2 separate regions of the Homo sapiens genome follow, and region 1 is linked to region 2. Evidence: fine-mapped expression QTL. A gene starts in region 2. The other region holds a variant in brackets. All regions are shown on one strand. Distances are from middle to middle. Region 1 holds the start of IGSF22 (immunoglobulin superfamily member 22). Region 2 holds the start of TMEM86A (transmembrane protein 86A).

Region 1 (9,646 bases), 27 kb before region 2:
CCTCGGCCCTCAGTGCAGGGATTGGGAGGACCGGCTGCTTCATTGCCACCAGCATCTGCTGCCAGCAGCTGCGGCAGGAGGGTGTGGTGGACATCCTGAAGACCACGTGCCAGCTCCGTCAGGACAGGTCAGCCCACGGGCGGGAGTGGGGACACACAAGGGAGCTAGAGCCCCGAGCGGGTAGAGGGAGAGACCCACATGTGCATGGGCGGGGGGTGAGGGGCAGATGGAAAACACTGGCACGGACTGATGGGCAGACAAGGAGTAGCGAGGACAGCTGGGTAGAGGGGCAGGATCCAGACAGTGGGGGGCCAGATGAAGAGGGAAGAAAAGCAGAGCTGGTGGATAAAAGGACAGAGGCCGAAAGTGGTAGGACATGTCATCTGTGTCCCTGATAGGAAGGGGCAGAGGGTAATGGTTGGCAAGGGTTGGTCTCTCCAAGACGCACAGGGGCAAGGCCTGGCAAGTGATTGCTACTCCATGGCTTTTGGGGCACCTCCCACAGCCCATCCCTCCACGACCCTGCCCCCACTGTGCATCTCTGCCGGGCAGGGGCGGCATGATCCAGACATGCGAGCAGTACCAGTTTGTGCACCACGTCATGAGCCTCTACGAAAAGCAGCTGTCCCACCAGTCCCCAGAATGACTGCGCTTCTCCTACAAGGTTCTCTGGGCACTGCCCAGCCTGAGTCTCGGCCCTCACCCAGGGCCCTGCCTCGGGTCCTGGGCCTGCTCCCCGCTTCCTCCCCTTCAGTCAGCTCCCTCTGTCCTCTGTCAGCCTGGCCTGACCCCTACCCTCCAGCATTGCTCTTCCTACTGTACATATTGGGGAGTGGGGGGCAGGGTCGGGAAGGGACATGCCAGGCCAGGCCTGGGGCCCCGGGGCCTGACCCACACCACGCAGACCCCGGGCTCCAGTTTTTAACGATGGTTCCATCAATACCTGATCCAGAATGTTTCCGTGCTACACTTTGTGTCCTGCTGCAATGTGTTCTGTCTGTCCATCCATCTCTGCCCTCTGTACCGGACACTGTGTCTCCTCAGCCAGGAAGGGGTAATGAGCTCCAGCCCCTAAGCAACCGGACTTGCCTGCCTCGGCCTCACCCGCACTTCTCCCAAAAGGCAGATGACGGGGAGTTAGGCATGGGGAGCTCCAGAAGGTCACCAGAGAGCTTTCAGCTGAGGGAGAGTTCTCTAGGTTGGAGTGGGCATCACAGCCAGGGTGGCCTCTGGGTGTCAGATGCTCTCAGGAGGGTGCCCAGCCTGTGAGGCACTGGCAAGGTAGGGGGCAGATGGGGCATGGAGAACCCAGAGGATCTAGGCCCTGTTGGGGAGGGGAGGGGAGCTCAAGGTTTGGGTGGGGACTCAGCCCAGATCTACGTGAGACATTTTTCTGTGTCACTGTGGGAAAGCCTTCCCAGAAGTCTCACTGCGTGTTGCTCTGCGTGTGTTCCCATGTCCATGCGTGTGTTGAGAGCCCATCAGGAGGGCATGCATGACTCTTTGGCAACATGTATTATCTTGGAGCCACGTGTTTTTATTGCTGACTTTAAATATTTATCCCACGGCAGACAGAGACATTTGGTGTCTTTTTATAATTCGCTCGTGGTCATTGAATAGAGCAATAAACGGAGCATTTTGAGCAAAACTAACCTCCTGGGTCTGTGTGATTTGCCTCTCCCCTCCACTGCCTTCCTTCCTGTACTTGGGTCTTTGTGCCCCTCCCCAGCATGAGCACAGTGAGCTTGGCCCTTCTGCTCACTGGAGCCCCTTGTGGAGACTGGGAGTATGGAGCGAGTCCAAATTTGTAAAGCCAAACTGGGAACATTCTGCAGGATTCTCACACAGCCTCAGCCCTGGCCCTGACACATGCTCTGGGCCATGGGGAGCCTCAAGGACAGGTGTGGAAGGCTTCCAGGGAAGGCACAGTGGCTGGCAGGTCACCATTTCCAACAGATGTGCCAGAGAAGCCAAGGCTAGGGTAAGGAGACATTCAGGTCACACCCAGGCCCCTCCCTGTTGGCCAAACTCTTATCCCATGTTAGCTCCACAGATCCCAACAGCAGCTGCAGCCCAGTAATTTCCCTTGTAAGGCCTGGGCTCAGAGTAGCTCCTCCCAAGGGGCCCAGGGAATCTGCATGTGGGCTGAGATCCTGAGCCATCCTGGACACTCCTGCTCTATTCTTGTCCCCTGCCCCCCTGGGATGGAGCAAAAGTAGCCATGATGCCACTGCTGGCAGGTGGGGGTCACCCCAGGGCAGAAGGAGGGGTCCAGGGCAAGGGTGCTGACCAACAAGTCCTTACAAGGTGCCAGAACCTTGGGTGGGATCCAGGGTCCAGGCATGCGGGGTGTGCTACAGATGATGAGAAAACAACAGGGTGGGCTGGACACGGTGGCTCACGCCTGTAATCCCAGCACATTGGGAGGCCGAGGGGTGGCAGATCATGAGGTCAGGAGTTCGAGACCAGCCTGACCAACATGGTGAAACCCCATCTCTACTAAAAATACAAAAATTAGCCGGGCGTAGCGGTGCACGCCTGTAATCCCAGATACTCAGGAGGCTGAGGCAGGAGAATCGCTTGAACCTGGGAGGCAGAGGTTGCAGTGAGCCAAGATCGTGCCACTGCATCCAGTCTGGGTGACAGAGACTCCATCTCAAAAAAAAGAAAAGAAAAGAAAACAACAGGTGGCTGAAGCAGCCCAGATGGAAGTCCTTGAGAAGAGGTGGCCATACTCTCCAGTCACCCTCAAGCAGAGACCTCCCCACAACCCCCGGAGGATGGGCCCTCCTACTCTTCTACCCAGATTAGGGAGATTGGGCTGTTGAAGTGGGAAGAGGAAGGAGACCTAACATTTCCCTGTTCTTCCCCAGGGTGGCCTTGTAAAGATACTCAGGCTGTGTATGAACCACACATAGGAGTGCAACATGAATGGGAACCCCTGGATTTGTGTAGCAACGCAGCAGATCCCAGAGGCCCTCCCCAGTTCACCGTGTCCCAGTCCCTGGAAAATACAGACCTGTTGCTTTGCTCCCTGAGCCCTGCTGGACTATGCATGCACCTGTACCTGAGTGTGTGCCTGTGCACACACACTACCCTGAGCCCCTCAGCTCAGAGAGGTCCTACCCAGCAGCAGTGAGAGCCAAAACCTGTACCACAAGGGAACAAAAAAAGTACCCCTGGACTGCCACCCTCAGCCTCCTTCCCGCCTGGCCTTCAGTGTTTCCCCCAGCCTGGATCCAGCTTTGCTTCCCGCCTCCCTTCTCCACCGCCCTCCCCCTCCCCCCACAACCAAGCAGTGTGCCATCTAGCTGAGACAGCTGCAGAGCCTGACTAAGGAATCGCCCCCAGGGGGCCAGACATTTAAGGAACAGATGACACTGGTAGCCTCACTGTTGGGGCAAAGGAAGAAGGAGACGGGCCACCCTACAGTCCAGGCACTAGCTGAGCCTCCAAAGCCGTGGACACAGCATTCGAGTGTTGGGAGGGACTGGTCAGTGCTGAAGGTAAGGCTCCCCTCCTCCCTCAGGAAGGGGACAAAGCTGACCACCTTCTGAGCCCAGAGGGGACTATAGGGTAGAGGGCAGGAATAGGAACAGGGGAGTAGTCTCAGAACCCAAAGGTAGAAGCAGCCCAGGCAGAGATATATTAGGGGGTGGAGAGAGGGAATAGAGTTTAACCCCTAACTACCTGGGTTAAAGAAGGCTTTGGAGCCCTCTGGGACGCCACTGGACTGGAGTCAAAAGCTAGGAGTCTAGTCTGAGTGACCTTGGACAGGTCATTTCTTTCAGACATCAGTTTCCTCATATACGAAATAGGACTTTAAAAACTGCAATGCTGGGCCAGGCGCGGTGGCTCACGCCTGTAATCCTAGCACTTTGGGAGGCTGAGGTGGGCGGATCACGAGGTCAGGTATTCGAGACTAGCCTGGCCAACATAGTGAAACGCCATCTGTACTAAAAATACAAAAAATTAGCCGGGTGTGATGGCGGGTGCCTGTAGTCCCAGCTACTCGGGAGCCTGAGGCAGGAGAATTGCTTGAACCTGGGAGGCAGAGGTTGTCGTGGGCCAAGATCGTGCCACTGCACTCCAGCCTGGGCAACAGAGCAAGACTCTGTCTCAAAAAAACAAAAACAAAAAAACTGCAATGCTGGCCACATGCAGTGGCTCACACCTATAATCCCAGCACTTTGGGAGGCCAAGGCAGGCGGATCAATCGAGGCTAGGAGTTTGAGACCAGCCTGGCCAACAAGATGAAACCCTGTCTCTACTGAAAACACAAAAATTAGCTGGGCATGGTGGCACGTGCCTGTAAACCCAGCTGCTGGGGAGGCTGAGGCAGGAGAATGGCTTGAATTCGAGAGGAGGAGGTTGCAATGAGCCGAGATCACCCAAAAAAAACCGCAATGCTGGTTAAATAAAACATTGAGAAAACATGGTGCTCTGAACAGGAATGAGGAAACGCTATCATCTGGTATGGAAAAAATCTCCAAGACACATTAAATGAAAAAAGAAAGGGTCAGAATAGTGTGTATAATGGGCTACCTTATGTGCTTTTTTAATTAAAAAAAAAAAAGGAAGATGATAAGAACACATGAGTTTTCCTATTTGCATGATGGAGGTCTAGAAGGAGCCTAGAGACTGGCTACCTGTTGCAATGGGGAAGGTTGTAAGATAGACGCAGGAGTGGGAGGGAGCCTGTCCATATGGATTTTTATATTGTTTTATTCTTTAACTATGTGATTGAATTACCAGTTCAAAGAAAAATGTAAGAAAAACTAAACCTTTGCCTTTACCATGTCGCAAACACAAGCAGAATTGTAGTGATGTTTTGTCATCTGTTTTAGCATTCCACCAGTGCCGGGGTCCCCAGGGCCCAGGAATAAGAGACACAGCTTCCTTCTAAAGCCCACTCCAGTATGGCTTAGTCAGGAAGTTCTTTCTTAGGTCTGACTGCATTCCCTCCTGATGAAACATCCAGCACTGCCTCCTTAGTGCCATGTAGCTATCAATAGGTATCCTCAACTCCCTCCAGGCCTTACTTGGTTGGCTGGGTAAGTCTAAGCCCTATAACCTCTCCCTCTGAGACCCTGGAATAGTTTGGAGTTACTCAGTGAGAGGACAGGCCTATTGGGTCTGGTAACTAACCAGGAAAAGGAAGCTAGGAAATGAAGAAAAGAGAGCTCGACTGCTCTCCTGGCCCTCTCCTGTGTGCTTCCATCTCCTCTTATGTCTGAACACACACATAACATCTCTGAATCTCCCTCCTACTCCCTGTCTTGTCCTTCATGGCCTCATCCTCTTCCCCAGTCTCACAGGTGAGTGCCCACGCCTGCTGTCACCATGACAACCATTCACAGCCGGCAGATGCTGCAGGAGCACGTGTCCATGGAGTTCTCCAGCTCCACCACCCACGTGCAGACCTTCTCCCAGACAACCAAGATCGTGGGAGGCAAGTGGAATGGGGGCAGGGAAGGGATCGGGAAGGGCAGCTATTCTTCCTCCACACCCATCCCTTGGGTGGCCCCAGTTTTGCCACTAATGGGCCCCTCTGGAGCCCACAATACCAACAGCAACCCCCACCCAACGTGTGCTTCTAATCTTGGCTTTGTTAAAGCTTCAGCCAGCTGGATGTTCAACACAGATCAGATCTCCAGGAAAACAGCTTAGAAAAGATCAATCATGTGGATGTGTGTGAATGATTGATAAACTCTTAATTGCTGAAGGAGATCAGAGCCATAGGTGAACAGATTCTATCTCCAAAGGTAGAATTTCAGGCATAGGGGAAATTAGGAAGGTAGCCACCTTATCTACATATCAGTAATGCTGACCCTGCTCCACTTAAGAAATAGGAGACTTGGGGCTACCAGTGGAGAAAGAAGGTGAACACATAAACAAGAAGGTGACCTTACCTTCCAGGCTTTTAGCCCTCTGGGGCCAGACTTGGAAGAGGGCAGATCCAAGGGAAAGCTGAGAAATGGTCTCAGAGCTGAACAGAGTGTTTTAGTCACGTCTCTAGTGGAAAGAGATTAAAAGATGGCCGGGGGCCAAGACATTGGATACCCCTTCTCACAGTCATTGCCCCTCCCTCAAAGCCTCAAAGGGATAGAGTCCCTCAAAGTCCTCCGTGCACAGAGGTCAAGGCCAGATAAACACTCTATACCAACCAACACCTCCTGGCCAGTGAGGCAGAGCAAGTGGAACAGCTGGGACTCAAGGCCTATGGTCTAGACCAGAAGTTCCAAACTCAAGTGATTTACAGCAGTGATTCTCTGCTGTGGCCGCACATCAGAGTCACCTTAGTGCAGGGGGTGTGAGGAGGGCAAAAATATGGCAGTACCTGAGTCTCACCCCAGACCATTCAATCAGGTATTTCTTATAAAGTTCTCCATGGATTATATATGTGCAGCCAAAGCTGTAGACCACTGACCAACAGGGCCCAGGCAGGGAACATAAATGTGGGGAAAAGACTGGGGTAAACTAGAGACTGTATATCCCATCTAAAGGGGCAGCCACTATTCACCTCCCACTGACTGTTGCCATATGGGAATACAGGTTCAGTGTTGAGAATCCAGAAATCTGAATTTTTATGTGAAATCTTTCTCTTTCAGATGTAGGGCT[A/G]CTTTTTTGTTTAAACATTGTGGAGGTCACATAAAAGACATCTGCAGGCCAGGTGTCCACTGCACTCTGCCTGTTTGAGACCTCTTGTTAGTATTTAAAAGCAGGCCATGAGAGCTTCTTAACACACTTTTCCCCCTCTGTCAGATTAGTGGGATAATAAAGGCACCTACTTCAGTGGGATGCTGTGAAGATGGAATAAAATCATCTCTGATATGTGCCTAGCACAGTTCCTGACTCAAGGAAAGTGTTCCATGATTCAGAGCAATTGTTGTGAATTGATAACTCACCAGCCAAGAAGATTGTCTGTAGTTTTATACTGCAAAAACAGTTTTTTTTGTTTTCCAAATATAAAATTATATTTCCACATTGAAGATGTGCTTTCAGATAAGGATATTCCCATATATAGCTCCACTGGAGTGGGACTGTGTCGTGTCCTGTCCCTCACTCAAGAATCACTACTCCCAAGGCAATGAATGCTGAACCCACAGAATGGCAGGGAGAAAATCTAGAGCAGAGCTCAGCCAAGCTGCAGACCTCCCAGGCAGAAGCAGGCCTAGCCCCTCTTAATGCTACTGGGGGACCAGGACTTCCAGGAGAGAAGCCTAAGAGACCAAGAAAATTCCAAAAGAGAAGCCTCCTTTAAAAAAAAAAATTAGGACTCAGGGCTGTGGCCCCATAAAGGTAATGGACCACTGAGGTGTGGGAAAGGAGTTCGCCTCCCCTAGTGGTTGAAACTTGCCATAACACAATGGCCCATCGACTCACCCTGCTTTCTCCCCATGTAGCTGGTCCTGCTCCCACTTCCCTAAATGCTCTTTGTTCCCATGCTCCACCGTCCTCTCAAGAAAGCTCTGTCCTCCCATCGCGAGCTGGGCTTCTACCTGGAGCCCATTCTGACCTCTCGCCTGCCCCCACAGAGGAGGTCGTGAGGAGGAAGTCCTCGAGCATAGTGGAGTTCTTCAGCTTAGTGACCCGGAGCTCAAACATCCCTGCGGGCGACAGCGTCCCTGAGTTCGTGGAGAAGCCTCAACCGGTCACCGCGCCCGAGGGTGTGTTGCTGCCTGTGGCTCACCGGGCTCCAGTGCTTCGCTTTCTAATCGAGTGCCCCCACCCTCCGTCCTACCCCAACGACCTCCAATGCTAAACCCTGGCAGAGCCTGGCCGAGGGTTCCTCCCCTGCCCGGGGCCAGGCCCAGGTGTCTGGGAGGAGGCAGAGAGCCGGCAGAGGGTGGCAGAGGCTCTAGCCTGGTGGCTAAGAGGCGAAAACGCGTCCTGTGCTCATCGCAGGGGACAAAGCCGTGTTCCGAGCCCGGGTGCAGGGGAACGCCAAACCCCACATCTCCTGGAAGAGGGAGAGCGGCATCCCCATCAAGGAGTCCGCCAAGATATTCTACGACAGCATTAACAAGGAACACGTGCTGAAGGTGCGGGGGCCAAGCCCAAGTCCAGTTACCGAGAAGGCCAGAGGCAGGGACCCCCAGGGCGGGCCGCCAGTCTTCTCACCGATGAGAGCCTTAACGGCGGCCCGAGAGCCGGGCAGTGGGAAAAGCAGCTGTCATTGCCCGAGAGGCGCGGCAGGATAAGAGAGGCCGAGTCAGGAACCGGGATATTGCCGGAATGAGCAGAGGACCCAAAGTACCCCCGGGGCAGAGCAGAGCAGGGGCAGAGCCAGAACGTGGCGGGGCGGGACGCAATGGAAGCGAAGGGGCGTGTCCACAAGGCGAGTGAGCCAAAAGGAACGCGGGACCAAGACGGTGGGCGTAGCCATGGAGGGCGGGACCATTGTGGGTGGCGAGGTGCCGGAGGGACTCGCCGTAGAGTAGGGGTGAGGGTCAGGGGCTCCGGGCTCTTCAGCTGAACCCTCCCCAAGGACCGACCATCCTTAGGTCTAACCAGCTTCTGGATCACTTTCTGAGAGCTGGGCCTACCCAGCTGTAACCCCTGGCTCCAGGCCCTTCGAGGAAAGGGAGGGATGGATCACGGGGAGATCTAGGCCTATAATTACTTATGATCCTATAATCACTCGGGTCCTGACCCGATTTCCCGTTGTGAAAGGCAAAGAGCCTCCTTTTTTCCCCACAGACAGAAGTAGTCTGCTCCCAAAGACCCATCATCACTGGACCCTAAGCCCCCCACAGCACACACGAGCTGCCCCAGTCCCCCTGATGGCCACCTCTTACACAAGCTCATTCATTCAGCAGACACTTTCTGAGAGCCTTGGCTTCTGAGAGCCTAGCAGGCTTCTGCAAGCACCATGCAGACGGGCATCAAGTCAGCCTTACTCACCACTGTTCCTTCTGGGGCTCAGCCCAGTGTCTGGTACAGAGGAGTAAATTGTATTAAATGAAGTCTCAGCCAGATGATGCCAGAAACTGCAGATAGAGTTACAAGGCAGGGGAAGCCCTGCCTTCTGGGAGCTCACAGCCAAGGGGGAGAGTCCGATGGAGAAGCAGACAGTTTTATTGCTATGGAATCAGGCTACAAACATGCATACTCACACTGACTGCTAGCTGGTACCTCCAAATCATACAGGCTGCTCAATCCTCCACACATATACCCAACAGTCAGTTCCTATTGTCCCCTAAAAAAAAAAAAGGCCTCCTACCTTATCTGACAGAAAGTCTCCCTGTGGTTCCTTTTCCTTCCCCCACTAATGGCCGGACTTTGATCCAGCTGGAGCCACTGACTTCGGATGACTCTGACAACTATAAGTGCATTGCAAGCAATGACCATGCAGATGCCATCTATACCGTATCTCTGCTGGTAACAGAAGGTGAGTTGGCCCCTTCCTCTTGGCCTTTCTTCTTAGGGACCAGACTCCCCCTGTCTGAACCTGTCCCTCTGTCTATCCTCAGGTCAAGAGAAAATGGACTTCAAAAAGATGCTGAAGAAGAGGTGAGGCTGGCAGGTCCTTCTGCCCAAGATATTGTCTCCTCATCCAGGCCAAAGCCTCTCAAAGGCCTCTCAACAAGGCCCTGAGTTCCAAGAATCCATGGAGTAGGGAGGGGTTTCTCAAGGTTGGAGA
Region 2 (15,973 bases):
GAACGAGCTGGGCAAGGACCGCAGCAGCTGCACGCTCACCGTCTATGGTGAGGGCGCCGCGGGGTCCGGCCTCGAGGAGGGGGAGAGGCGCAAAAGGCTGGTCTTGTGGGCCATTGGTCAACTATTTGGCTGGCACCGTTTTTTAATCTGACTGCCAACAGGTGGTGCAAACATTCTTAATTGGCCACAGTTCTTACCACTCTCCCATCCTTTCGATGTCATTTGTTATATGCCTGGCCCCTGCAGACATGAGAGTTCTCAATCCCTAGATAAGATGTGGTTTGCAACTCTTGGTGAGCCTAGACCTGCCTTCAGAAAAAAGATACTGGTGATCAGGACTCAACCAGACTCACCAATCACGATCTCTCTGGCACGGTTCTGGAAATAACCTATATGTTTACAAAATTTTGCGGGTGATTCTGATGTGCAATAAAAATTAAAACTGGTCTAGGATAAGGACCGGTGGGGGGCACAAACAAGGGAAGGAGCGAAGGGAACCCTCCCTTTTGTACATGCATGCCATGTTTCTACTCATGTGTGCACACATAGGGGGAAGCATTTTATTCCTTCCCAGTCTACTGTCTTCATAGCCACACAGCTAGCAGCATGAACTCTAAATGCAAAGCTGGCCTGCCTTGCTTTCTGTTGCTTAAATTTCCCCCAGCTTTCCTCTCATGGTAAAATCCCAAACCAAGAAGGTTTCCCCCTCCCCCACCTCTCATCTCACCTTCTGCTACTCCTGAACCTTCCATGACACTCCATTGCTGTGGTCTCCATGGTTACAGACCTTTTTTATCCAGTTATAGATACCTTTCTTTGGGGAAAGGACCTTGTCCTGTTGCTCTGTCTCTCGAGTGCTTAGCTAAGTGTCTGGCACTGAGACAATATCTCCAGAGAGGCTGCTGAGCTGTGTAAAAGAACTAGGCCAGGGAAGGCACTGTGGGTGCTATCCAGCTTTCATTCCACAGCTAAAGAGATCCCTGATAACTCAAATCTGCTTGTAAGCACAGCAAATGGGCCCAGGGCCCTGGCTCTGCCACTGACCAGCCATGTGACCTTAGTAAGCTACCTCATTGAGCCTGTTTTCTCATCTTCTTTATAGGACTATGAGGCTTAAATGAGACAGTACACAACTGCCTGGCACAATGTCTGGCAAATATTAAGTGCTAGATAAATGGCAGCTCTTGCCCCTTCACACTCTGCCAACCCAAGATTAAGGGTCCCAGGGTCCAGCTCCTGGTTTCCTGCATAGGAAGTCCAGCAGTTTGGAATTTCCCTGGTCGCCAGCATCATTAATATAACGAATACTTCCTTTGCTCTTTCAGACAAAGATGATAAGTCAGTTGTAGCATCCATCACCGAGAGTCTGCAGAAGAAATCAAAGCACCTCATGTGAGCTCCAGCCAAGCCCAGGCATCAGGAGGCTGTTATGATGTGGAGTTTCTTGGCCTGTCCTCTGCATGGCCCAGTGTAGGAAGCCCAGTTTGCTCTCTGGTGTTTGTTAATGTAAACATTCAGTGAAGGGATGGGGCAATAAACGTAACTCATCCTTTCCCGTTCCTGAGGGTGATATACAGCAGGGACCAAGGGGATGGATGTGATTGCATGATAGGGAATCCCAGACCTGGACCCCTGAAAGCCTAGTCCAAACCCACCCACAAGGCAGTGACCAGCCTTCTTGTGACTGGGCCTGGTCTTCCCTTCCCCTCCTCCACATCTACATGGCACTTTCCCCCTCCCCTCAGAGCTTGGGGGCAAGTCCTGCTGACTTCATCCTGCTCTCCATCCTGCTCCCTCCCATTTCTTCACACTAGGTAGGTCTGTGTTCAGAGTTCTGAAGTTTGAAAGGATCAAGATCTTCCCTCTTTAGTGTCCAGGGTTCAGAGCTAGAAGGGATTGATCATCCAGCTCACTAAGTTTCAAACTTACGTTTTTCAGTGGAATCCTTCCAAAACAAAACAAAACAAAAAAAAACACAACCTAAGAAGCTACTGGACTTGAAATAAGGATAGGAGGTCTTTGAGCCTGCCTTCTCTCATTATTCCTTCACTACCCCCTTACCAGGAATCTCTGTAAAAACTAATTTGGAAATCACTGACTCATCCAACCACCCCTGAGACTTGAGTCTCCTAAATCACATCCCCACAAATGAGCAACACCTCTACTGATGGCATATCCACCACCACCCAAGGCTTCCCTTTCTACTTCTGGGTTAGGGCATTGTCTGTTAAGTTACAAATGCTCCTGGAGCAGAGTGATGTATTATTCTGCCAGGGCTTTACAACTAATGAATGAATCAGCCAATCTAATCCCATTGCTCCCAGCTGTTCAACTAAGCCCAGAGTCCAGGATGAGGGAGATGCTTGAAGGGAATCTGGATCATTTTGAAGGAAGCAGCAGGTCTCAAGTGGGGAGGGGAGGAGGTGGGCAGCAATAGATGACACTGGGTAACTAAAGGTCACCAAGGGTGCTGGGCACCTGTGCACAGGGGAGTACATCAAGGACAAATTTGGACAGTGGCAAATACCACTCATCCCCCATCCTCCTAAACCACATCCTCACCCACACCAGGGAAGTGAGACACACTCCAACCGGCACAGTGTCACCAGAGCCAGGTAGCCAGCCTGGCACCAAGATGCACTGCCCAGGACTGTGACTAGGCTGTGAGGACAGCCAGAGCCTCTGGCACCATGCCCCCATGCCCTCTCCAAGATAGGCATGTGCCACACAGGCCCACAAGCAGGGCAGCCAATGGCTCTTGATTTTTATTATTTTTCACATGGGCAGCAGAAGATGGAGTTGTCCCATCCTTGCTCCCCTTGCATTGAATGTGCCTTGGGTCTTAAAACCCCGGAGTGTCATTGGAGCCCCCTCCTCTTGCTCCTAGTGTAGGAGGGACAAGGAGGAAAGCACTGTGAGTATGTGTGTTGGAGGGGAGGGGTCCCAGCTCCCTGAGCCAGGCTCAGCACCCCTCAGCAGCTCCCTGAGGCCCTCTCTCTGTGAGACTTTTGACAGACAGCAGGACAGAAACATATAGCAGAGAAAGACATAGGCAGACTAGGAGACAGGCTACACACACACACAGAGAAGCTGGCCCCTTCCTTTGGCATGGTTCACCCTAGCCCTGGGGATAGGATCTAAGGGTAGCGTATGGGACCTGAGCTTTGGGCTTGCCCGAGAGAGAGATGGGGCTACTTGAATTCTTGAGACCCCAAACTCCGAGACCAAAGAAGTTCTCTCTCCTGCCTAACCTGGACCCACACCTCTTCATGTCCCCACCCACCACTTAGAGACTGAGATTGTTCAAGTAACAAGGATAGAAGAGGGAAAAGAAACGGAGGCTCCACTCTCATCCAGTCTTCCCAACTAGGGGCCTGTGAAAGGGGCTCCTGGGTCTGAGTCTTCTCAGCACAGATTCTCCCGTTTCCCTCAACTTTGTGCAGATGAAAAAGGGGAGGAGTGGGTGAACCCAGCACTGCCATTGGTCCTAGGCATAACACATGGAGTCAGACTCTTCCACCTGGTAGGGGAAGTGGGTGGGGGGGTGTCAAGAAGCTGAGCACCATCACCTTCCAGGGGGGTTTTGAAAGTCCTGATAGGGTAGAGGTGGGGAGATGTCTACTTCTGGCTCCAGTCTGATATTAGGCTGGCTCTTTTAGCTCTCAGCATTGTCCTGAACCACGAGTTCTGCTAGGGAGATCCTTTTCCAGCCTCCCCACACGAACTTGCAAATTCCTCAGGCAGTACCTGCTGCCCCAGGCTGGCACTGCAGCCATCCTGATCCAGCTCCTGCAGGTCCCCAGGATCTGGGCCCCAGCCCCAGGAGGAGAGAGGGGTGACCAGACCCTGGCACCTCAGTTGGCCTTGGTCAGTCTGTAGTGTTCCACAGGCTCCCGGCTTTCGACAGCTGACAAGGCGACGAGCATCTGGGCCACATAGTAGGTGGACATGATAAGCGCCCGAGAGTAGGGCACAGGAAAACAGAATTTGTTGAGGGCGATGGTCAGGTCTGAGATGATAAAGAAGAGTGCACCACTGCCAGCTGCCAGCTCTGTCCAGCGCCAGTCTGCCCCGGCCAGCCGCAGCCCTGCCATAGCTCGCCAGCCCATGAAGCCGATAAGGGCCACATAGACCCCCACCAGGTAGGTGAAGGCACCTGAGAGGCATGGGTAGAGGAGGGCATAGCACAGGCCCGACAGCGCTGCCATCACCAGACCTGTCCGAAGAGCCAGTGGCTGCATGCCAAAGGCCGAGGCGTAGAACATGTGGGTCACAGCAAACATCAGCAGACCTGGGGGTAAGAGGGGCAAAGGCAGCTGAGGGCAAGCTTGATGAAGAATGAGTAACAGGGTGGGGGTAGGGATGGATGTGGCGATGGAGTGGAGTGTTTGGGATAACCCAGCAGCTTTGCTTTGGGATAACAGGGGTAGGAAGATCTAAAGTTAAAGACCACCACCCCAGTCCCCTGAAGGACTCTGGAACTGATCACTAGTTCCCCTGCGAGGTCATCCCCTAACAAGGACCCTCACAGTCCCTGGCCTCAGAAACCCTCAGGCTCCCCACACTCTGGTTCAAGAACTCCCTCTTCCAAATCTTTGCCCACAGCCCAGGACCCTCTATCCCCCAGCCCCAGGACTCCTCCCAGGCAACTACTATGGCCACTGACCATGCACGAAGTATCCTTGGTCCTGCCAGATGAGGAAGGCGTCACCTACAGCAGAGAAGACAAGCCCCACAAAGATGCGGGTGGCGCTGGGGTGGGCCAGCAGGAATCCCAGGCCATGGGCCAGAAGGAAGAGCCAGAGGCAGAAGATAGGCAGGCACTTGATGAGGGTGCTGACCCACGATGGGCTAGATGAGGGCAGCCAGAGCACAAAATACACGCAGGTGGCCTTGAAGAACGGCACCAGTTTGGGTCCTTCACTCTTCACCTGGAGGACACAGGACAAGGGCAGCACTCAGAACTTGGGGGTTGAAAGCCAGCACCCTCAGCCTAGGCATCCACCCCAGAGACACTCCCATCCATACCCCCACCTCACTTCCACCCCCAACCTGAGAAGACTGACACAGAGAAACCCAGCCTGGCCTGCCTCTACCAGCCAGCAGGTTGTGGCCAAACCCATTACTGCCCTGAGGCTCAGTATATTAGGAGGGGCACCCTTCTGCAGCCTAGTGTGCTTCTCCCTTCCTGCCCCCTCCTTCTCCCTCCTCAGGGCCCCTTTAGCCCCTCCTCTCTGCCAGCAACAGCCCCCAGCTGTTCACTCTGGAATGGAGTGAAGTCAGTGGGAAACCACAGAGACACCCTGACTGGCCAACTCGTGATCCTCAGCATGGGGCCAGGGTGCAGCCTTAGGGCCCTGGCAACACCAGGTGTGTGCCAGGAATGTGGGAAAGCAGGCAATGGCAATCACCTCAGCCACCACAGCCTCTCTCCTCCTCAACCAGTCTGTTCCTCAGCCTCCACTCCACCTGCCCCAGCCTGAAGGTGGCATCAAGGGCAAGGAGGGCTATGCTAGGGATGCTGGCTAGATAAATGGACCCATGAGTTGGGAGCAAGAAAATTGTCCTTCAAACACCAAAGATTTCAAGGATTGGGGGAAGGGAGGGTGTGTGTCAGTCAGCCTCATTTCCCAGAGAACAAGAGCAACTCAAGCCACACCAGAAAGAGGCAGGAAAGGGGGGAGAGGTTCTATTCCCAGCTTCTGATCTGGAGCCAGCAGACAGGCTGGGAGATGGGGAACTGAGAGGGGGAAGTTAGAGCAGCTGACTTGGTCTCAGCCGGATTAGCAGAGGGCAGCTAAAGAAAGGTTGTACCCAAGGCCACTGCAGGCAGAGTCCAAGCTGGGGGAGGGGGCTGCAGCGATGTTCTGAATCTGTGATCCTTGAAACTCCTTTCCTTGGGCTGCTAACAGATCCATTGAGGGTGATATGGAGCAGCTGGAGTTCCCTGTACACCCACACTCTGCCCAAAGCGATTGTGTCTCTGGCTAGGTGAGCTGCCCAGCACAGGACTTGGGAAACACTCAGAGTCCAGACGACCAGGTACCTAAGGACTGATCAGACTGTGATGAGGAGGATTGGGAAGAGGCGGATGGGTGGTTCCAGGGTCCAAGCCTTTCCTTGTTCTGCCAGAGGTAAGAGCAGTGAGAAGAGATGACTTCCACTTCCCATGGAAATTAAGGCTGGTCAGGGTAGGGGCATGGTCAGAGGAGGCGGCTGGAGGGGATGCCCAGGCCCACAATGCCCAGCAACCACCTGCCAGCCCCTGGGAGCATTAACCTCCGCTCCATGGCCTCTCCCAGCCCCATATTTTCTAGAAGGAGATACTGGCAGTAGCTGGAGAGACCCTGACAGTTATAGGGAACCCAGTAGTAGAATAAGGAGGATGGGGAGACGAAACAAAAGGTTCAAGTTGAGAAAGTCTGAAAAGCAGGGGATGTCATAGAGAATGCCCCCTTTTCCCCCAGCGCGTTATCAGCGCTTCTTAGACTCAGGGGCGTCCGCCAACTTGTTTACAAAATGAGGAAGGTTAGGAAACAAACTTGGGACGGCATTCCCAGGAGGTCCCTGTTATCCTCCCAGCATCCCCCGCCCCCACGCCTCCCTGTGGTCCGCCTACGCGGAACTCTGCGGCCGGCAGCGGTCCCCTCCCTCTCCCGGGCCGCGACCCCGCCGACCCGCGCCAAATACATGGAGATCAACAAAGTCACGCTTCCGAGTCACGTGGCCAGTGTTTTCCTCCCTCCGCGGGCGGGCTGGGGGCGCGCGAGGAGGGGCGCCGCGAGTCTGAGGAGCGGGGGGCGGTGACAGCGCCCGCCTCCCGCCGCGGGACTCCGGCCGCCACGGGACCCCCGCCCCGCCTCGGCCCCTTCGGCAGCTCGGCCTGCCGAAGTCCGGTGGCCAGGCCGGTGGGCTCCAGCCGCGCCGGGCACTGGCTCGCTCGCTCGCTCACTCACCACAGTGACCGGGGACACCATGGCGGCGGCGGCGGCGGCTGGCACCCTGCTCCGGGCTGCAGCGGCCAGGACGCGCCCACGGCCAGGTAAGCCGGCGACGATTCTACAAAGCCCGGAGGGACGGACAATACCTCCCGAGCGCCCGGCGCCGGGGTTCTGTCAGCTAGCCCCGTGACGTCACCGCTGCCAGGGCCAATGAGCGGGCGGGAGCCGGGGGGGCGGGGCCCGGCTGGCGGCGCCGGCCAGGCCCCCGGCTGCTGCTCGGAGAAAGGAGGCATCTCCCAGGGGTCAGAAGGCGGATACCCCCCAGGCCCCGCCCCCTTGGGAGGCCGTGCCAAGGCGTCCACGGAACGTGAACGTGACCGTGACCCCGGTGCCTGGGTGAGGACTGAGCTTGGCTGAGAGACAAACACATTGCTGTCCTGGACGCACAGCCACATACATTTTCTCATAACCCGGGAGCAAAAGGCAAAGACAGATTCCCTTAAGCCTTTAAACATGCAGTCCACGCCGATACGATTGCAATTGGACTCACAACCTTCACTGTGTACAAACACACATCCAAATCATCAGCAAACACACAACCTTCGACTTGAAAAGCGGCACGTATATAGGTATGCAGCAGCCATGGACCCATAATCGTAGCATATACATCACACATACAGAATCATAATTACCCTTAAGCACTCAACAAGTACACAGATCCAAAACCAACAACCACAAATTGACATATATGCTCCATGTAAGAAAAGAGACATATACAGGGACTCTACAGCAGCTCGTAGACCCATGACCCTAATATAGAAACAAACACAGATAATTGGCCGTAGGCACACACCTCTTACAACTCAGAGACCACTGCCACACATACAAGAGCACCCCAAGAATGACAGACAGGCAGACCCAAAGAAGCGTGAGCTAACTTTGCCAAAAATACGTCCCAAGTGGATTTAATGTTGATTTTACGTAGACTAAAGGAACACAAGCTCATTCAGAGCGGTGCATGTTCAGAATCATTGGAATTACATGGAGAGGTAGGTGGCCAGATGGACTGAAATCTAGTCCCAGTTTTGCCACTTCCATGCTGTTAGATTGGGTGAATCACTTCCCCTCTCTGGTCTTGATTTCCTCACTTAGAAGATGAGCGGGTGAGTTCTAAGGTTCCACCCAACTCTGACATGTGTAGGTTGGGGAAGAGGAAGGGCTGCTGGTTTTAGGAAATTTAAGTCTAGCAATCCTGGAGATGGAGATTTCAGCTGTATCTCAAAGGATGGGCAAGTAGTCTGTAAGCTACTGTAGAAGGGCAGTAGCTGTGTGTCAGGCTTTGGGAATTGATGGGAAAGGGGTGACCAGCCCTAATTAGCAGCCAAAAAGGAGTTTCAAACATCCTGGCATGGTGACACAGGCCCTTGTGCTGGTCCTGAGCCTTGTGCTGTTTGGGCAGAGACCGACAGGCTGAAGTCTCCTGTAAGCCCCTCCCACAATGGGTCTCTTCCTTTTCCTTCTGGATCCTACCCAGTTTTCCCTAAAGTCCCAACACCCATTCAGAGGGGTGATAGTCCTCTTCTGGTGACAGAATTGGCAACCAGAGATTCAGAGTCCAGTACAACAAGAGTGAGAGTCAAGGCTTGGGACAGGAGTCACCCAGATCTTCCCCCCATCCCCTCCAGTCCCCTCCAGCATAGAGTTCTAAGGGTCAATGACCTCTGCCTACTCCTCTTTCTTTCCAGTTAGGGGCTTTGGGGAGAGCACCTTACCAGAATGAAGGACTATAACTGCTGCCCCAGGGCTTTGTCACTCACACACACACACACACACATTTCTACCAAGTGTGCTGCCTAGAGAGAACACTGGCTTGAGAGTTAGAAATGCCATTCTTAGTCCTAGTGCTTCCTTCTCCATGACTCACTACTGTGGTGTATAATTGAGCACATCATTCCATCTTTGGAGCTTCAGATTTCTCATGAATAAAATGGAGGAAATGGGCTAGTAGAAGGTGCAAATATTCCAGTTTTCCAGCCAAACCCTCTAACATCACCTGAGGGATAGTTCTCAAACAGAAATTTGCCAAGTCAGGGCATTTTTCATTTCTCTAGACCTTAGTTTGCCTCTCTATAAAAATGAGAAGGTGGACTATATCCGTGGTTCTCAACAAGTGGTACCTATCAAAATTACTTGGAAAGCTTTTAAAAACATAGATGCCGTTGCCCCACCCAAGACCTACTAATTAGTGGCACCAGTTCTAAGAAGCTTGCACATACAAATACCTAACAATACAAAACATGAGACTTAGAACTCCCATCTACAGGGTTCCACTCAGTGCTTGATTACCCAGTAGGCAAACTAATCATATACACAAGTCGCCTACAAAGCAGAGGCATCCCCCCTCAATGCCGGTTTTTCTCCATTTGCCTTCCCACCACCTAGATTCATTCTTGGCTCTTCTCTACCCTGTCCTGGGAGCCTGAGCTCTATGGACTGTATCTTCAGGGATCACCAGGGCCCTGGCTTCTGGCTGAGTTCAGCCAATGAAATTCAGAGGCAGGAGATGAGAACATGGACGAGGCCTGATGGACCAGGCTGAGATTCTGGCTGTGGCCTGCTTCTCCATGGCTACAGCCCCAGGCTCCCTCCCCATACCTTCAGGCCAGGGGTGGCAACAGTTTCCTGCTGTTGCTAGTCTTTTTTTTTTTTTTTTTTTTTTGAGACAGGGTCTTGCTCTGTCCCCCAGGCTGCCATGCAGTGGTGTGATCTATGCTCACTGCAACCTCTGCCTCCTGGGTTCAAGCGATTCTCCTGCCTCAGCTTCCCTGGTAGCTGGGATTACAGGTATGTGCCACCACGCCCGGCTAATTTTGTATTTTTAGTAGAGATGGGGTTTTACCATGTTGGTCAGGCTGCTCTCGAACTCCTGACCTCAGGTGATCCACCCGCCTCGGCCTCCCAAAGTGCTGGGATTACAGGCATGAGCTACTGTGCCCAGTGCTATTGCTAGTCTTTAGGTGCCTCCTCACCCATGGCTAGTTTCGTCTCTGCAAATAGTCATTAAATTCTCTTCAGTTAAATTATTGAGTGTGCCAGTACCCTGGCTGATATAGGCACCCACAAAGCAAGGGCACCACCCTCTTCCCAAAGAGAAAGAGCTTATTCTGACTTCATTCATATGGTTGAGATTTGTTGTTTCAAAAGTAAATTTTCATTTACTATTTACTAGTGTTTACTATTTACTAGTGTTTTTATTTTGAATTGCATATTGCAGGAGGCAGAAAGTGGGATAAGGCTTCCTGAAAATGGGCATTTCTCCCTTTTGGTAGGAACTGGCATTTCTTCCTTTCCAACCTATTGGCATGGCCCTTTTCACACAGCTTTGTAATTTTCCCTGTGCTTGTGAGCCCATTCACTCACTCATTCATCCAACAAATGTTTACAGTGCACCTAATATGTGCTAACCACTGTATTAGGTTCTGGGGTGTAAAATATTGAGTAAAATATATTCTCTATCCTTATGGAGCTCACAGTTCATTTCAGACAGGCAAGTAAACAATTATTCAATGTGGTAGCTGACCTAATGAAGTATGAAGGTGTCACAGGTGGCATTAAAAAAAGACATCAGAATTATAAATTACACCTGGAGCAATTGCAGGAGCTAGAGTTAAATCTAGAAGAACGAGTTAGTCTTTATTGAGCAGACACCAATGTATATGCCATTCTAGGCAGAGGGAATTGCATGTGTACATAAGAGCACAAGAGACACACTGAATTCAGGGAAATATCTGTAGTACTGATTCGAGCTGGGGAGTGAGAAGGTGAAACTGAAGAAGCATGAGCCAACTCAGATCTTGAAGATTCTACTCAGCCAGGCGCGGTGGCTCATGCCTGTAATCCCAGCACTTTCAGAGGCCAAGGTGGGCAGATCACCTGAGGTCAGGAGTTCAAGACCAGCCTGGCCAACATGATGAAACCCCGTCTCTACTAAAAATAAAAAAAATTAGCTGGGTGTGGTGGTGGGCACCTTCAATCCCAGCTACTTGGAGAATCGCTTGAACCCAAGAGGCAGAGGTCGCAGTGAACCGAGATTGTGCCACTGCACTCCAGCCTGGGCAACAAGAGCAAGACTCTGTCTCAAAATAAATAGATAAATAAAAATAAAAATGAAGGTTCTACTAAGAAGTTTAGACTTGACATAGTAGATGACACTAAACCAATTGTCCTCTGTTCCTTAGCATCTCTAATTGTGCCCGCTGTCATCCACCAGCGACATGGGCAATGCACAGAAATGATGACCCATCATCATTCTGAGCTTGCCTCGCTTCCCCCATGGGGCTTCTTCTCACCCAGTGGCCTCCTTCATCTCTGACCTCTGTTGTTTTGCCACAGGATATTTTTCCTCACTTAGTTTGTCCTGCTTGAAATCATAATCCAGCCCTAAACTGATTATCTTATTCCCAACCTGATGCTGGATCTCAGCTAATTTCTTTTCTGTTTCAGGCCTCCAGAGCACTTTTTTTTTTTTTTTTTTTTGAGACAGAGTCTCGCTCTGTCGCCCAAGCTAGAGTGCAGTGACGCAATCTCAGCTCACTGCAAGCCCCGCCTCTCCAGTTCACGCCATTCTGCTGCCTCAGCCTCCCGAGTAGCTGAGACTACAGGCGCCCACCACCACATCCAGCTAACTTTTTGTATTTTTAGTAGAGATGGGGTTTCACCATGTTAGCCAGGATGGTCTCGATCTCCTGATCTCATGATCCGCCCGCTTCGGCCTCCCAAAGTGCTGGGATTACAGGTGTGAGCCACTGCACCCAGCCTCCAGAGCACTTTTAACCAACTCTCAGGGTCACCACACATACCCGATTCCACCCCCACCCCACCTGCAGATATGTCGAAGAAATCAGAGATGTTAAGGAGGGTGTGACAAGGTCAGATGTTCTGATAACAGTGTGAGGGCGTCAGTTGTTGAGTTGTAAGGAGTGAGCTGAATGTGTGTGTCAGCCTAGTGGAGAATGTTTGGGTGGAACTGGATACAAAACTAGGGCTCAGGCTCACAGGGAAGATTTGGAAGTCTCAACCATACTGAAAGTCTATGGATGTGATGAACCAGAGAGGAGCCTTGAGGGAGTAGAGAAGAGGACTAGAACAAGCACTTTGGGGACAAACATTTAAGAGAATGGTGGAAAAAAGGAAAAGAAGGAAGAAGACAAACACACAGATAAATAGATATGCTGAGAATGTATCTGGCACACCCAGATATACCTAGTTCCAAGTATACTCACAGGGAAAGAGACAGACACACCCAGAGAAGTGTATGTTCACAGATGATCTGTGGGTTTTGTGGTTTCGTTCCCTGCCTCTGGAACAGGTGGCAGGTGCTGGTTCTGCTTCCCCATTGTGGTGGGCCAGAAGCTTTGAAGATAAATGACCATGACCCATCACCATTACTGACTGTGTGCCCCATGGCCCACGGTCTGTGGGAGGCTCCACATACCCAACCCCAGCCCAGGCATTCCTCCAGGTCCCTTCTGCCCTTTCTGCTTACAGTTATCAGCAGCCTAGAATCCATTCTAGAAGGCCTCTGTCATGCTGGAGCCCGCTTGGGTCAGGGAGGTGAACCCTGGAGTGGCCAACGTGGTCAGTGACACAGAGTCCGCTCCTGGAGGCACTTAAGAAAAGGACAAAGATTTTAGCAGAACTTCTCTTCCAGACCCTTGGTGAGGGTTAAATATTGATGCTGTCCTGAGATAATATGTGGAGCAGTGTCCCTAAGGACATTCCGGGCTATCCGGTTAGCCTCTGGGCTTGGGGCCAGGCAAACATGGGTTTAAGGCTCTTCATCTACCGTGTGGCTTTGGCAAATTGTTTAACCCTCTGAGTTTCAATTTCCTTTTCTATAAAATAGCAAACCTGGAAGGGGTGGCGTGAAAGGAAGTTTGCTGATGCATCTACCATATCCAGCATAGCCCCTTACCCACAAGATACTTACTCTTCTTTCCTTTCCTTGGCGTATTTGTTACTGGAAAGGGATCCTGATCCAGACCCCCAAAAAGGGTTCATGGACCTCATGGAAGAAAGAATTCTGGGCGAGTCCATAGAATAAAGTGAAAGCAAGTTTATTAAGAAAGTAAAGGAATAGACCAAGCATGGGATTACATGCCTGTAATCCCAGCACTTTGGGAGGCCAAGGCAGGCAGATCCCTTGAGGTCGGGAGTTGGATACTAGCCTGGCCAACATGGTGAAACCACGTCTCTACTAAAAATACGAAAAATTAGCCGGGCTTGGTGGTGCATGCCTACAGTCCCAGCTACTTGGGAGGCTGAGGCAGGAGAATCACTTGAACCTTGGAGGCAGAGATTGCAGTGAGCTAAGCTCAGACTACTGCACTCCAGCCAGGGCAACAAAATGAGACTTCATCTCAAAAAAATAAATAAATAAATAAATAAATAAAAATAAAAATAAAAATAAAAAACCCGGGCGCGATGGCTCACCCCTGTAATCCTAGCACTTTGGGAGGCCAAGGCGGGCGGATCACGAGGTCAGGAGATCAAGACCATTCTGGCTAACATGGTGAAACCCCGTCTCTTCTAAAAGTACAAAAATTAGCCGGCCGTGATGGCACACGCCTGTAGTCCCAGCTACTCAGGAGGCTGAGGCAGGAGAATCGCTTGAACCAGGGGGGCAGAGGTTGCAATGAGCAGAGATCCCGCCACTGCACTCCAGCTTGGGTGACAGCGAGACTCCGTCTCAAAAAAAAAAAAAGAAAAAGAAAAAGAAAGTAAAGGAATAAAAGAATGGCTACCCCATAGGCAGAGCAGTGACAGGGGCTGCTCAACTGAGTATACTCATAGTTATTTATTGATTACATGTTAAACAAGGGAGGAATTATTCATGGGTTTTCTGGGAAAGTGGCAGGCACTTCCCAGAACTAAGGGTTCCTCCCCCTTTTAGACCATATAGAGTAACTTCCTGACATTGCTATGGCATTTATTTGTAAACTGTCATGGCCCTGGTGGGAATGTCTTTTAGCATGCTAATGTATTATAATTAGCATATAATGAGCATTGAGGACAACCAGAGATCACTTCTGTTGCCCTCTTGGTTTCAGTGGGTTTTGGCTTTCTTCTTTACTGCATCGTGTTTTATCAGCAGCGTCTTTGTGACCTGTATCTTGTGATACCAGTCCTGTCAACATCCTATCCCATCTTGTGACTAAGAATGTCTGACCTCCTGGGAATGCAGCCCAGTAGGTCTCAGCCTTATTTTACCCAGTCCATAATCAAGATGGAGTCACTCTGGTGTTGTTTTTTTTGTTTTTGTTTTTGTATTTTTTTGAGACAGAGTCTCGCTCTTGTCGCCCAGGCTGGAGTGCAGTGGCACAATCTTGGCTCACTACAACCTCTGCCTCCTGGGCTCAAGTGATTCTCCTGCCTCAGCCTCCTGAGTAGCTGGGATTACAAGCATCTACCACAACGCCCAGCTAATTTTTGTATTTTTAGTAGAGATGGGGTTTCACCATGTTGACCAGGCTAGTTTCAAACTCCTGACCTCAAGTGATCCACCTGCCTCGGCCTCCCAAAGTGCTGTGATTACAAGCGTGAGCCACTGTGCCCAGCCTGAGTCACTCTGGTTCTAATACCTGACATATTTCTCCCCTCCCCTTTATAAGTGGACCCTTAATTCTAAGGGTTGTAGAGGGACAAAAATCCATCTTTTGCAGCTTCTTCAGGCTGAATAAGGGTGACGATATTCCTGCCTTTCTATTAGGATCTTTTGTATCCAGGGTAGAGAGGAGCTCAGTCAGAAAGCACTGGTATGCTGAGGGCCATTCATAACTCTGAGTTCCGACAAAAGGTGAAATCTAGAAGATTAATAAGTATTCAATTTAAGAAAATGTTGACTAAGCTTATCCTGCATTCCTACACAAGGAGTACAACAGCAATATATTCCACAATAGTAAAGCAAAATAAGTAAAACTATCCCAAGTAAACTAAATAAGAAGGCTTTCCATGAACTGGGCAACTGTTGGAACCAAGCTGATATGGAGTTGCTAGCTAATTCTAATCAGAATTAGATTCATGCCAGAATTAGATCCAAAGATTGACATTACCCATCCCTCTTATTTCTTTTTTTTTTTTTTTTTTTTTTGAGATGGACTCTCACTCTGTCACCCAGGCTGGAGTACAATGGCACAATCTCGGCTCACTGCAACCTCCGCTTCCCAGGTTCAAGTGATTCTCCTGCCTCAGCCTCCTGAGTAGCTGGGACTACAGGTGCGGGCCACCACACCTGGCTAATTTTTGTGTTTTTCGTAGAGACGGGGTTTCACTATGTTGGCCAGGCTAGTCTCGAACTCCTAAACTCGTGGTCCGCCCGCCTCGGCCTCCCAAAGTGCTGGGATTACAGGCGTGAGCCACTGCACCCAGACCCCTCTTGTTTCTTCTGAGCTGCAGTCAGAGATCACTGGTTGGTTCACAGGAATAAGCAGGGTCAGTCTAAATTGCAGAAAACACTCAAAAACAACTGATGAGATGAGAATTTAATAACAGGTGTACTGGCCAGGTGTAGTGGCTCATGCCTGTAATCCCAGAACTTTGGGAGGATGAGGCAGGTGGATCACAAGGTCAAGAGATAGAGACCATCCTGGCCAACATGGTGAAACCCCATCTCTACTAAAAATACAAAAATTAGCTGGGCGTGGTGGCACGCACCTGTAGTCCCAGCTACTCTGGAGGCTGAGGCAGGAGAATTGCTTGAACTCGGGAGGCGGAGGTTGCAGTGAGCTGAGACTGCACCACTTTACTCCAGCCTGGCGACAGAGCAAAACTCCATCTCAAAAATAAATAAATAAAAATAACAGGTGTACCACAGTTGTGGAAACATATTTTTTTCTTTCTCTAGTCTCCTATTTTTATTAAAAACAAATCATAATGGGACCAATTTCCTTGTATATACTTGGCCTGATTATTTGCATAAAGCACAGCCAGAATAATTATTTGCCACATAGGCTCTTTTTTTTTTTTTTTTTTTT

The links.
Region 1: its variant is fine-mapped to the expression of TMEM86A in whole blood (INTERVAL, PIP above 0.99).

What each region holds. Positions count from the first base shown.
Region 1 is chr11:18,719,934-18,729,579 of GRCh38, reverse strand. It overlaps IGSF22 (immunoglobulin superfamily member 22), which reads left to right and starts at 3,392. Exons shown (of 23, transcript NM_173588.4): 1 at 3,392-3,506; 2 at 5,311-5,452; 3 at 7,539-7,670; 4 at 7,909-8,045; 5 at 9,295-9,394; 6 at 9,477-9,516. The coding sequence starts at 5,344. It overlaps PTPN5 (protein tyrosine phosphatase non-receptor type 5), which reads left to right. Exons shown (of 15, transcript NM_006906.2): 14 at 14-127; 15 at 553-1,652. The coding sequence ends at 646. The region is part of intron 2 of IGSF22-AS1 (IGSF22 antisense RNA 1); the gene reads right to left. RefSeq lists an enhancer at 7,760-7,949. The variant A/G (reference allele first, on the strand shown) is at 6,622.
Region 2 is chr11:18,689,891-18,705,863 of GRCh38, reverse strand. TMEM86A (transmembrane protein 86A) reads right to left here and starts at 7,085. Exons shown (of 3, transcript NM_153347.3): 1 at 6,957-7,085; 2 at 4,667-4,931; 3 at 1,079-4,291. The coding sequence starts at 6,977. The coding sequence ends at 3,855. It overlaps IGSF22 (immunoglobulin superfamily member 22), which reads left to right. Exons shown (of 23, transcript NM_173588.4): 22 at 1-47; 23 at 1,326-1,552. The coding sequence ends at 1,396. RefSeq lists a silencer at 6,974-7,283 and an enhancer at 6,877-7,378.